Linked DNA regions of Homo sapiens. The protein of the gene in region 1 purifies or fractionates together with the protein of each later gene. This does not show direct contact. Each region holds a gene or a part of one and is shown in the gene's direction. Other genes may lie near its edges. The genes, in order: GIT2, GOLGA5 and PKN3.

Region 1 (3,725 bases):
CTTTTTTTTCTTTCATACAGAATAAGAACAGTTCAGTCACACTTTAGGTATTTAACTATCCTACTAGTCAAAGCTGAATCCTGCATATAGATTGATCATCTTTCTCATTCTCAAATCAGAAAACAATGATATGAATGATATTCCTAACAAATGAGTGTTTATAACAGGACTTTGTTTACTCTGTTCAGTCACTGATCCCCATTGAATATTTGTGAAAAGAAATTAAAGTCTTATGTCATCCTGCTTGGTTTTAGATGGTTGAGACCTTGTATAATAACGGTGCTAACTCTATATGGGAGCATTCTTTGCTGGACCCTGCGTCTATTATGAGTGGAAGACGTAAAGCTAATCCACAGGATAAAGTACAGTGAGTGGAATGTTTATAAATACTTTTATTTCTTCATAACAAATGGGGCCCACTGAAAGGAGTGCAGCTATTTTTGGTCAGTCTCCGCAAGGGCAGCAGAGGAGGGGGTTACCCTAGTTGTGCATCAGGTTCTTTGCTATTAGAAATGCAGAATGGGGTGGGGCAGGACCATCTGTTTAGCATGGCCACCCAGCAGGAGTAAGTGGCTTCCTCAGTTGGAAACCATGGCTTGGAGTCTGTAAATGTAATCAGATTTAAACTTATACTCAAATAAGAGGCGATCAGACCAGAAATCTAGGTCTGGGCACCCGTCTGCCTGTTGCCTCACTTATAAGATGGGACTAAATGCTGCTTTCTCCCAAAGTTGCTAAATCAGTTCAGACAATTACACAGAGAAGAGGGCTACTATAAAAAGCAGGTACTCTGGAGTCCCAGCCATTATAATAACTAATGTATGTTTTCAAACTGCAGGTCTTAAACCTTGCTGAAACTTACTTGAGCATTGTTCATTTTATTCTCAAGTGGGGGATGTGGGTCACTTCCTCTTCTTTTTACAGTACAAAGAATGGGGATTGTTGTATCTGAACGAGTGAACTGTTTTCTTTTTTGTTTTTGAACCAGTCCCAATAAAGCGGAATTCATCAGAGCCAAGTATCAGATGTTAGCGTTCGTCCATCGCTTGCCCTGCCGGGATGACGATAGTGTGACTGCCAAAGATCTTAGCAAGGTGGGTCACACCTTTTAAAATCCCTAAAAGAGCGGGCTGAGACAGCATATTGTTTTATTTGAAAAAACGAAAAAAAAGTCTGGTTGTGGGCTTTTTTTTTTTTTTTTTTTTTTTGAGACAGAGTCTCTGTTACCCAGGCGGGAGTACAGTGGCGCGATCTTGGCTCCCTGCAGCCTCTGCCTCCCGGGTTCCAGCGATTCTCCTGCCTCAGCCTCCTAGGTAGCTGGGATTACAGGCGCATGCCACCATGCCCAGCTAATTTTTGTATTTTTAGTAGAGACGGGGTTTCACCATGTTGGCCAGGCTGGTTTCGAACTCCTGAGCTCAGGTGATCCGTCTGCCTCGGCCTCCTAGTGTTGGGATTGCAAGCGTGAGCCACTGCACCCGGCCAGGGTTTTTTTGTTTTTCGTTTGTTTTTTTTGAGACAGGGTCTTGCTCTGTTGCCCAGGCTGGAGTGCAGTGGTGCAATCACGGTTCACTGCAGCCTTGACCATCCAGGCTCTAGCAATCCTTCCACCTCAGCCTCCCGAGTAGCTGGAACTACAGGCGCATTACCATACCCAGCTAATATTTTTTATTTTTTGTAGAGACGGGTTCTTGCTATGTTGCCCAGGCTGAAAAAAGTTTTTAAAGAAAGAAAAACAAAAACTCATTTCTGCACATTCATTAATTAATAGCTTTTTTGTCAGTCGGTTTCGTCTTTAATCTGAATTCAAATGGCAGCCATTCATATAGTGGAGGTTCAGGGCAAAGAGGAAAAGTAAGTCTCTGGAAGGCTGTTTGTGTTTTTCCAATATGGCTTTTAAATTATATTTTGATAAGTTTTTTGTTTGTTTAACTTTGAAATAGGAACCATCTCAGAGTTGTTTCTAGAAGGGACTAGAAAGATTATAGGACAATTGTTTCTTTTTAATAAGGACTAGAAAAAGTACTAAAGGAAGGGGACTTCTTCAGGTTTCCAGGTTGAACAGTAAGTATGATCTTCAGAAAGCAATGTGTGACTCAAAGCTATAGTACACAGAATGGTTTATGATACTTGTAAAACGAGTGAGGTGGTTTTCTTTATGTGGGCCTTCGCATGTTTTTGAGAGATGCTGTAAGAAATGTGCATATTTTCAAAGCGCTGCCTTGGATAAATGCTTACTCACACAGAGCATGAGAACTTACTTATTCAGAACTTTTTTTATTACTTTTTGGCCGGGTGCGATGGCTCACTCCTGTAATCCCAGCACTTTGGGAGACTGAGACTGGCAGATCACTTGGGCTCAGAAGTTCAAGACCAGCCTGGGCAACATGGCGAAACCCCGTCTCTACAAAGAATATAACAATTTTAGCCGGGTATGGTGGCCGTGCCTGTAGTACCAGCTACCTGGGAGGCTGAGGTTGGAGGATGACTTGAGCCCAGGAGGTGGAGGTTGCAGTGAGCTGAGATTACACCATGGCACTCCAGCTTGGACAACAGAGCAAGACCCTGTCTCAAAAAAAGAAAACATTTTCTGCATCTATTGAGATGATCATGTGGTTTTTGCTTTTGCTTCTATTTATTTATTTATTTATTTATTTATTTTTATTTATTTTTGAGATAGAGTCTTGCTCAGTCGCCCAAGCTGGAGTGCAGTGGTGCGATCTCAGCTCACTGCAAGTTCTGCCTCCCAGGTTCATGCCATTCTCCTGCCTCAGCCTCCCAAGTAGCTGGGACTACAGGTGCCCACCACCACACCCGGCTAATTTTTTTTGTATTTTTAGTAGAGACAGGGTTTCACCATGTTAGCCAGGATGGTCTCGATCTCCTGACCTCGTGATCCTCCCGCCTCGGCCTCCCAAAGTACTGGGATTACAGGCAGGAGCCACCGCGCCTGGCCTGCTTTTACTTCTATTGATGTGGCAAATTACATTTATTGATTTGTGTATGTTGAGCCAGCCTTGAATCTCAGCAAAAAAGCCTACTTGATCATGATGGGTTAATTTTTTTATTTTTATTTTTATTTTTTATTTTTTATTTTTTTGAGACAGAGTCTCGCTCTGTAGTCCAGGCTGTAGTGCAATGGCATGATCTTGGCTCACTACAACCTCCGCCTCCCAGGTTCAAGTGATTCTCCTGCCTCAGCCTCCCAAGTAGCTGGGATTACAGGCACGTGCCACCAGGCCCAGCTAATCTTTTGGTTTTTTTTTGTTTGTTTGTTTGTTTGTTTGTTTTTGAGACGGAGTCTTGCTCTGTGGCCCAGGCTGGAGTGCAGTGGCGCAATCTTGGCTCACTTCAAGCTCCGCCTCCCGGGTTCATGCCATTCTCCTGCCTCAGCCTCCTGAGTAGCTGGGACTACAGGCGTCCGCCACCACACCCGGCTAATTTTTTTGTATTTTTAGTAGAGACGAGGTTTTACTGTGTTAACCAGGATGGTCCCGATTTCCTGACCTCGTGATCCGCCCACCTCGGCCTCCCAAAGTGCTGGGATTACAGGCGTAAGCCACCACGCCCGGCCATTTTTTGTATCTTTAGTAGAGACGGGGTTTCACCACGTTGGCCAGGCTGGTCTCGAACTCCTAACCTCATGATCCGCCTGTTTCAGCTTCCCAAAGTGCCGGGACTACAGGCCTGAGCCACTGCGCCCAGCCATGGTGGATTAACTTTTG
Region 2 (3,500 bases), on another chromosome or scaffold:
GTTAGGATTTCAACCCAGGATTGCCTGACTCCAGAGTCTGGTCTTAACCATTTATCATACTCTGCCACTATGCCACACTGATCATTTTATGTCCTTTTTACAGGTTTGCCAATAGGATTATCCTGCTGCCATCATGTCTTGGTTTGTTGATCTTGCTGGAAAGGCAGAAGATCTTTTAAACCGAGTTGATCAAGGGGCTGCAACAGCTCTCAGTAGGAAAGACAATGCCAGCAACATATATAGCAAAAATACTGACTATACTGAACTTCACCAGCAAAATACAGATTTGATATATCAGACTGGACCTAAATCTACGTATATTTCATCAGCAGCTGATAACATTCGAAATCAAAAAGCCACCATCTTAGCTGGCACTGCAAATGTGAAAGTAGGATCTCGGACACCAGTAGAGGCCTCTCATCCTGTTGAAAATGCATCTGTTCCTAGGCCTTCATCCCATTTTGTGCGAAGAAAAAAGTCAGAACCTGATGATGAGCTGCTGTTTGATTTTCTTAATAGTTCACAGAAGGAGCCTACCGGGAGGGTGGAAATCAGAAAGGAAAAAGGCAAGACACCTGTCTTTCAGAGCTCTCAGACATCAAGTGTCAGTTCTGTGAACCCCAGTGTAACCACCATCAAAACCATTGAAGAAAATTCTTTTGGGAGCCAAACCCACGGTAGTTAATCAGTCCTCTTATTTCTTTTAGAGTTAAGCAAATTGAATGTGTCATCATATGATCCGATGGTGTTTCTCATCTACTGTTATGGAATCTGTCTCCACTGGTGTAAGGGCAGACTCTCTGCAAATGTGTGGTGTAAACAAGGGAGACATCATTGACTACTATTAGTCAATAGACAGTTGTAGCAGGGACTTCATGTTGTCTGGAGGGCAACTTCACCCACTCAGCATCTAACAAAGTATTTCAAATTTGTTTCTCTAAGACATTTTAAGATTAAAAAAAGAAAATTTTGAAATCTGAAAGAAAACATGTCAGTTTGGATCGGGGACTATCCCAGTTGATATCTTTTTGTTACTAGGATTATAAAAATGACAGGAGGCTGTACTTCACGTATTTTCTGGGTTGTGTTTTTTGTGTGTTTTTCCCCCCACATCCTCCACAAATAAAGCTGAGAGACTGAACTTTGATCCAAGTTGAAGAGTTGAAGGCATTGACCTAGTAGTGAAGCAAGAGCTTAGAACTCTTGTTTTCAATTGTTTAATTCCCTCTGAGATTACCTCTACAAGTACACCTTCTTTCTTGTGAAATGAGATTAACGTGGTAAATGTGGCTAATTCAAGTACCTACTAACTGTTTTAAAATAGCTATAGGCTGGGCGTGGTGGCTTACACCTGTAATCCGAGCACTTTGGAACGCTGAGGCAGGCAGAGCACTCGTGCCCAGGAGTTTGAGACCAGCCTAAACAACATAGCAAAACTTTGTCTCTACAAAAAATACAAAAATTAGCCAGGCACAGTGGTGCATGCCTGTAGTCTCAGCTACTTGGGAGGCTGAGGCGGGAGAATTGATTGAGCTCAGGAGGTCGAGGTTGCAGTGAGCCGAGATTGTACCACTACACTCCAGCCTGGGCCGTAGAATGAGACGCTGTCTCCAAAGATAAAAATAGAAAAAAGGCAAAAAACTTGATAGTAGGTTCTTGCAGGGATTCTTTTGTTGTTTTGAGACAGGGTCTTGCTCTATCGCCGAGGCTTAAGTGCCGTGATGCTATCACAGCTCGCACTACCTTTGACCTCCCCAGGCTCAAGCGATCCTCCTGCCTCAGCCTCCTGAGTAGCTGGAACTATAGGTGCACACCACTGTGCCCAGCTAATTTTAAAAAATTATTTTTAATAGAAACAGTGTCTCACTGTGTTGCTCTGGCTGGTCTTGAGCTCAAGTGATCCTCCTACTTTGACCTCCCACAGCATTGGGATTATGGGCATGATCTACCGTGGCCTGGCCATAGGGATTTTTTTTTTTTTTTCTTTTTTGAGACGGAGTCTCACTCTGTCACCCAGGCTGGAGTGCAGTGGCCTGATCTTGGCTCACTGCAAGCTCCACCTCCTGGGTTCATGCCATTCTCCTGCCTCAGCCTCCCAAGTAGCTGGGACTACAGGCGCCTGCCATCACGCCTGGCTAATTTTTTTTTTTTTTTTGTATTTTTAGTAGAGACAGGGTTTCACTGTTAGCCAGGAGGCTCTTGATCTCCTGACCTTGTGATCCGCCCGCCTCGGCCTCCCAAAGTGCTGGGATTACAGGCGTGAGCCACTGTGCCTGGCCTTTTTTAATGTTTTTATTTATTTATTTATTTATTTTTTTGTGAGACGGAGTCTCGCTTTGTCGCCCAGGCTGGAGTGCAGTGACGCGATCTTAGCTCACTGCAACCTCCACCTCCTGGGTTCAAGCGATTCTCCATTTCAGCCTCCCGAGTAGCTGGGACTATAGGTGTGCACCACCACCCTTGGCTAATTTTTGTATTTTTTGGTAGAGATAGGGTTTCATCACGTTGGCCAGGCTGGTCTTGAACTCCGGACCTCAAGTCATCTGCCCACCTTGGCCTCCCAAAGTGCTGAGATTACAGGCGTGAGCCACCACACCTGGCCAGGGATTCTTTATAGAGTTGATTATTGATGGGAGATTGTCATGTTCTTGGATGTTATAGCTTCTTTCATTGTCTTGGCTGTTAGTGAATAAAATCTTTCTTGTATTTTCAAGACAAAAACTTGTATAGAAGAAGACGTTTTGGGTTGTGAAAATAGGATCAGGCAGTAGCAGTTGATTAATATGTTCACATATTCCAAAATTTCTTCTCAGCTATCTTTCAATTAATTACACAAAGAACCTACTAGGTGCAAGGATATGGAAGTGTCCAGTGGGTGAGCTAGACATGTAAACAGATAATTTACTTGTGGTCTAGTAAATGTAGCAATTAAGTATGGTCAGAGTGTTGTGGAAGTATGAAGGAGGAAGTAACTAATTGCCTAGGGTATTCAGAAAGGATTCACAGAGGGTCTGTATTTTTAGCTGGGTCTTAAAGAATGAACAGGAGTTTGCCAGGTAAAAAGTTAGAGACAGCATTCCATGCAGAGAGAACAGACTCTAAGAGGCTAGTAGAGTAGAAAACATTGTAACAAAGTTGGAAACACTGAGTGAGTTGGAGGGTGATGAAGAAAATGTAGCTAGCAAACAAAGTTGGGACCTGTTTGTGAAGGCCCTTGTGTCATACTGTTTATGCAATTAAACCCATTACTTCTATAATCATTGTTAAAGATTGATTCCTGAACAACAGGCTTTAGAATCGCTTGTGTGTTGTTAATTTAAAAATGAATTATTGAGTGCCTTCCCAGGCTTCCTGAATCGTTATTTTCTGGGGATGGAGCCAGGGCATCTGATTTTGTTGTTGTTGTTCTGTGGGTGGTTCTTAGCCAATAAAAGTTGAAAGTGGCTGCCATAGCCAGTGTGATGCTAGTAGAGATCTTTAAGTCAAGAGTTGACATAGCT
Region 3 (3,725 bases), on another chromosome or scaffold:
CAGACATGGTGGCATGTGCCTTTAGTCCCAGCTACTTGGGAGGGTGAGGTGAGAGGATTGCTTAAGCCCAGGAGGTAGAGGTTATAGTTAGCAGAGATCTCCAGCCTGGGCAACAGAATGAGACCTCATCTAAAAAAACTAATTAAAAAAAAAAAAAGGAGGGGGAGGCTGGGCACAGTGGCTCATGCCTGTAATCCCAGCACTTCAGGAGGCCAAGGTGGGAGGATTGCTTGAGCCCAGGAGTTCGAGGCCAGCCTGGACAACATGGTGAAACCCGCCTCTACAAAAAATACAAAAATTAGCTGGGCGTGGTGGTGCACACCCAGCTACTCGTGAAGCTGTGGTGGGAGGATCACTTGAACCTCAGTGGCGGAGGCTGCAGTGAGCCGAGATCGCACCACATCACTCCAGCCTGGGCAAGAAAGTGAGACCCTGTCTCAAAAAAAAAAAAAAAAAAGGCTGGGCGCACTGGCTCACACTTGTAATCCCAGCATTCTGGAAGGCCGAAGCAGGTGGATAACTTGAGGCCAAGAGTTCGAGACCAGCCTGGGCAACACAGCGAAACCCTGCGTCTACTAAAAATACAAAAATTAGCTGGGCGTGGTGGCGCACTCCTATAATCCCAGCTACTCGGGAGGCTGAGGCACAAAAATCTCTTGAACCCGGGAGGCAGAGGTTGCAATGAGCTGAGATCACACCACAGCACTCCAGCCCAGGCGACAGAGCAAGACTGTGTCTCAAAAAAAAAAAAAAAATGAAAAGAAACCATCAGTCTACTTGCCTGGCACTTTGGCTGAGGGCCCAGTGAGCCAGGGGTGTTGTGCAGGGCACAGGGCACAGCCCAGGGAAAGTTTTCCTTCCCTCTAATACTCTTGCTCTCTCCTGTAGCCTGTACTGCGAGAAGCGGATCCTGGAGGCTGTGGGCTGCACAGGGCACCCTTTCCTGCTCTCCCTCCTTGCCTGCTTCCAGACCTCCAGCCATGCCTGCTTTGTGACTGAGTTTGTGCCTGGTGGTGACCTCATGATGCAGATCCACGAGGATGTCTTCCCCGAGCCCCAGGCCCGGTGGGTTCCATCCCTCCTGCCTGCCTCTTCCAGCAAACTTTGCCTGGTTCCCTACACCCACTCTCTACATACTGCTTTCTCCAAGTGCCCAACAGCAGGGGAGCAGGAGTCAGAGGCCTTGGTTTACATCCTGGCACCAACTGACAGCATTTGTGATCCTGGGTATCAGCTTATGAAGCTGTGCATTAGGTTTCTTTTTTTTTTTTTTTTTTTTTTTTTTGTGAGACAGAGTCTGGCTCTTATTGCCCAGGCTGGAGTGCAATGGCATGATCTCGGCTCACCACAACCTCCGCCTCCCTGGTTCAAGCCATTCTCCTGCCTCAGCCTCCTGAGTAGCTGGGATTACAGGCATGCACCACCACTCCTGTCTAATTTTGTATTTTTAGTAGAGACGAGGTTTCTCCATGTTGGTCAGGTTGGTCTCTAACTCCTGACCTCAAGTGATCCGCCCACCTCGGCCTTCCAAAGTGCTGAGATTACAGGCGTGAGCCACCACACCTGGTGAGTCTCAGATCTTTATTTGAAAAATAGGCATGATTGGCCGGGCACCTGTAATCCCAGCACTTTGGAGGCTGAGGCGGGTGGATCACCTGAGGTCAGGAGTTCGTGACCTGGCCAACATGGTAAAATCTTGTCTCTACTAAAAATACAAAAATTAGCTAGGCATGGTGGCACACGCCTGTAATCCTAGCTACTTGAGAGGCTAAGGCAGGAGAATCGCTTGAACCCAGGAGGCGGAGGTTGGAGTGAGCCGAGATCCCGCCACTTCGGTCTGGCGACAGAGTGAGACTCCATCTAAAAAAAAAAAAAAAAAGGCCGGGCACGTTGGTTCATGCCTGTAATCCCCACACTTTGGGAGGCTGAGGCGTGTGGATCATGAGGTCAAGAGATCAAGACCATCCTGGCCAACATGGTGAAACCCTATCTCTATAAAAACTAAAAAAAAAAAAAAAAAAAAAAAATTAGCTGGGCGTGGTGGCGCGTGCCTGTAGTCTCAGCTACTTGGGAGGCTGAGGCAGGAGAATTGCTTGAACCCAGGAGGTGGAGGTTGCAGTGAGCCGAGATCGCACCGCTGCACTGCAGCCTGGGTGACAGAGTGAGACTCCGTCTCAAAAAAAAAAAAAATAGGCATGATGAATATCCACTGCAGGGACCAACACTTGGTCCCTGGCACCATTTAAGGGCCCATGAAGGGTGAGCTGGAAATGCACGCAACCTTGGGGCGACCTTGGGACTATTGGAGCACCCCCACCCTCAGCATGATGCTTGTCCCAGTCTCACTCATCTCTGACTCTGGCCGGGACATCCGGGATCCCCCCGCTATGGCCATCCTGGTGCCTCCCTGCCCTGCCTCCCTGGTGTGTGTCTTGGGCCTGAGTTCTCCCATAACCACCCCTGCAGCTTCTACGTGGCTTGTGTTGTCCTGGGGCTGCAGTTCTTACACGAGAAGAAGATCATTTACAGGTGACTTTTGTCCCAGGGATGCACGGGGGTAGGGGTGGGGGTGGGGGTGGAGTGGGTAAGGACAGATGCTGCCTCCGCCTGCCTGGGCTGCTCCAGGGGCCGTTACTGTTCCCTGGGTCTAAGCCCCACTCAGTCCCTTTGATCTGCACCCTTGCCCTCAGGGACCTGAAGTTGGATAACCTTCTGCTGGATGCCCAGGGATTCCTGAAGATCGCAGACTTTGGACTCTGCAAGGAAGGTGGGGGCCGCCCATTGGGATCCATATCTCCAGCCTTGTTTACCCACCCTGGCCAATAGGATGATGGGCACATGGCATGTCCCAGGAAATCTCCTCACCTGCGGATGCCCTGGTTCCACCACCCCAGACCTCATTCCAGGGGACAGCTGGGCACACTGGCCCTTTCTTCCTAGTCCTAGAGGCTCGTAGCCCCAGCCTGCACCTGGCCCAAGGGAGAGCCTGTGGTCAGGGATGGGAGAGGAGACTGAGTTCTGCCTTCTGTTTTTTTTTTGGTTTGTTTTTTTTTTTGAGACGGAGTCTTGCTGTGCCGCCCAGGATGCAATGCAGTGGTGCAGTCTCGGCTCACTGCAGCCTCCACCTACTGGGTTCAAGCGATTCTCTTGCCTCAGCAGCCCAAGTAGCTGGGACTACAAGCGAGCACCACCACACCTGGCTAATTTTTGTATTTTTTTAGTAGAGACGGGGTTTCACTGTGTTAGCGAGGATGGTCTCGATCTCCTGACCTCATGATCCACCCACCTTGGCCGCCCAAAGTGCTGGGATTACAGGCGTGAGCCACTGCGCCCGGCTTCTTTTTTTTTTGAGATGGAGTCTTGCCCTGTTGCCCAGGCTGGAGTGCAATGGCGCAATCTCGGCTCACTGCAACCTCTGCCTCCAAGGTTCAAGAGATTCTCCTGCCTCAGCCTCCCGAGTACCTGCGATTACAGGCACATGCCACCACACCCAGCTTATTTTTTGTATTTTTAGTAGAGACGGGGTTTCACCATGTTGGCCAGGCTGGTCTCGAACTCCTGACCTCATGATCTGCCCACCTCGGCCTCCCAAAGTGCTGGGATTACAGGTGTGAGCCACCGCACCCAGCCGAGTTCTGCCTTCTGTGACCTTAGCCTGTGAGCTTGGCTCTGCATGCAGTCAAATGGCGTCATAACCATTCCCACTTCCTTGGGTACAGGGCAGG

The links.
Region 2: the proteins of GIT2 (region 1) and GOLGA5 purify together in Homo sapiens (affinity purification with mass spectrometry, with the first as the bait; one large-scale study listed by BioGRID). This does not show direct contact.
Region 3: the proteins of GIT2 (region 1) and PKN3 purify together in Homo sapiens (affinity purification with mass spectrometry, with the first as the bait; one large-scale study listed by BioGRID). This does not show direct contact.

What each region holds. Positions count from the first base shown.
Region 1 is NC_000012.12:109,986,332-109,990,056, reverse strand, and holds part of GIT2 (ARF GTPase-activating protein GIT2), read left to right. Parts: intron 1-254; coding exon 255-367; intron 368-988; coding exon 989-1,094; intron 1,095-3,725. UniProt on the Homo sapiens protein: GTPase-activating protein for ADP ribosylation factor family members, including ARF1.
Region 2 is NC_000014.9:92,797,305-92,800,804, forward strand, and holds part of GOLGA5 (golgin subfamily A member 5), read left to right. Parts: intron 1-103; 5' UTR 104-133; coding exon 134-677; intron 678-3,500. UniProt on the Homo sapiens protein: Involved in maintaining Golgi structure. Stimulates the formation of Golgi stacks and ribbons. Involved in intra-Golgi retrograde transport.
Region 3 is NC_000009.12:128,715,859-128,719,583, forward strand, and holds part of PKN3 (serine/threonine-protein kinase N3), read left to right. Parts: intron 1-888; coding exon 889-1,065; intron 1,066-2,466; coding exon 2,467-2,529; intron 2,530-2,690; coding exon 2,691-2,767; intron 2,768-3,725.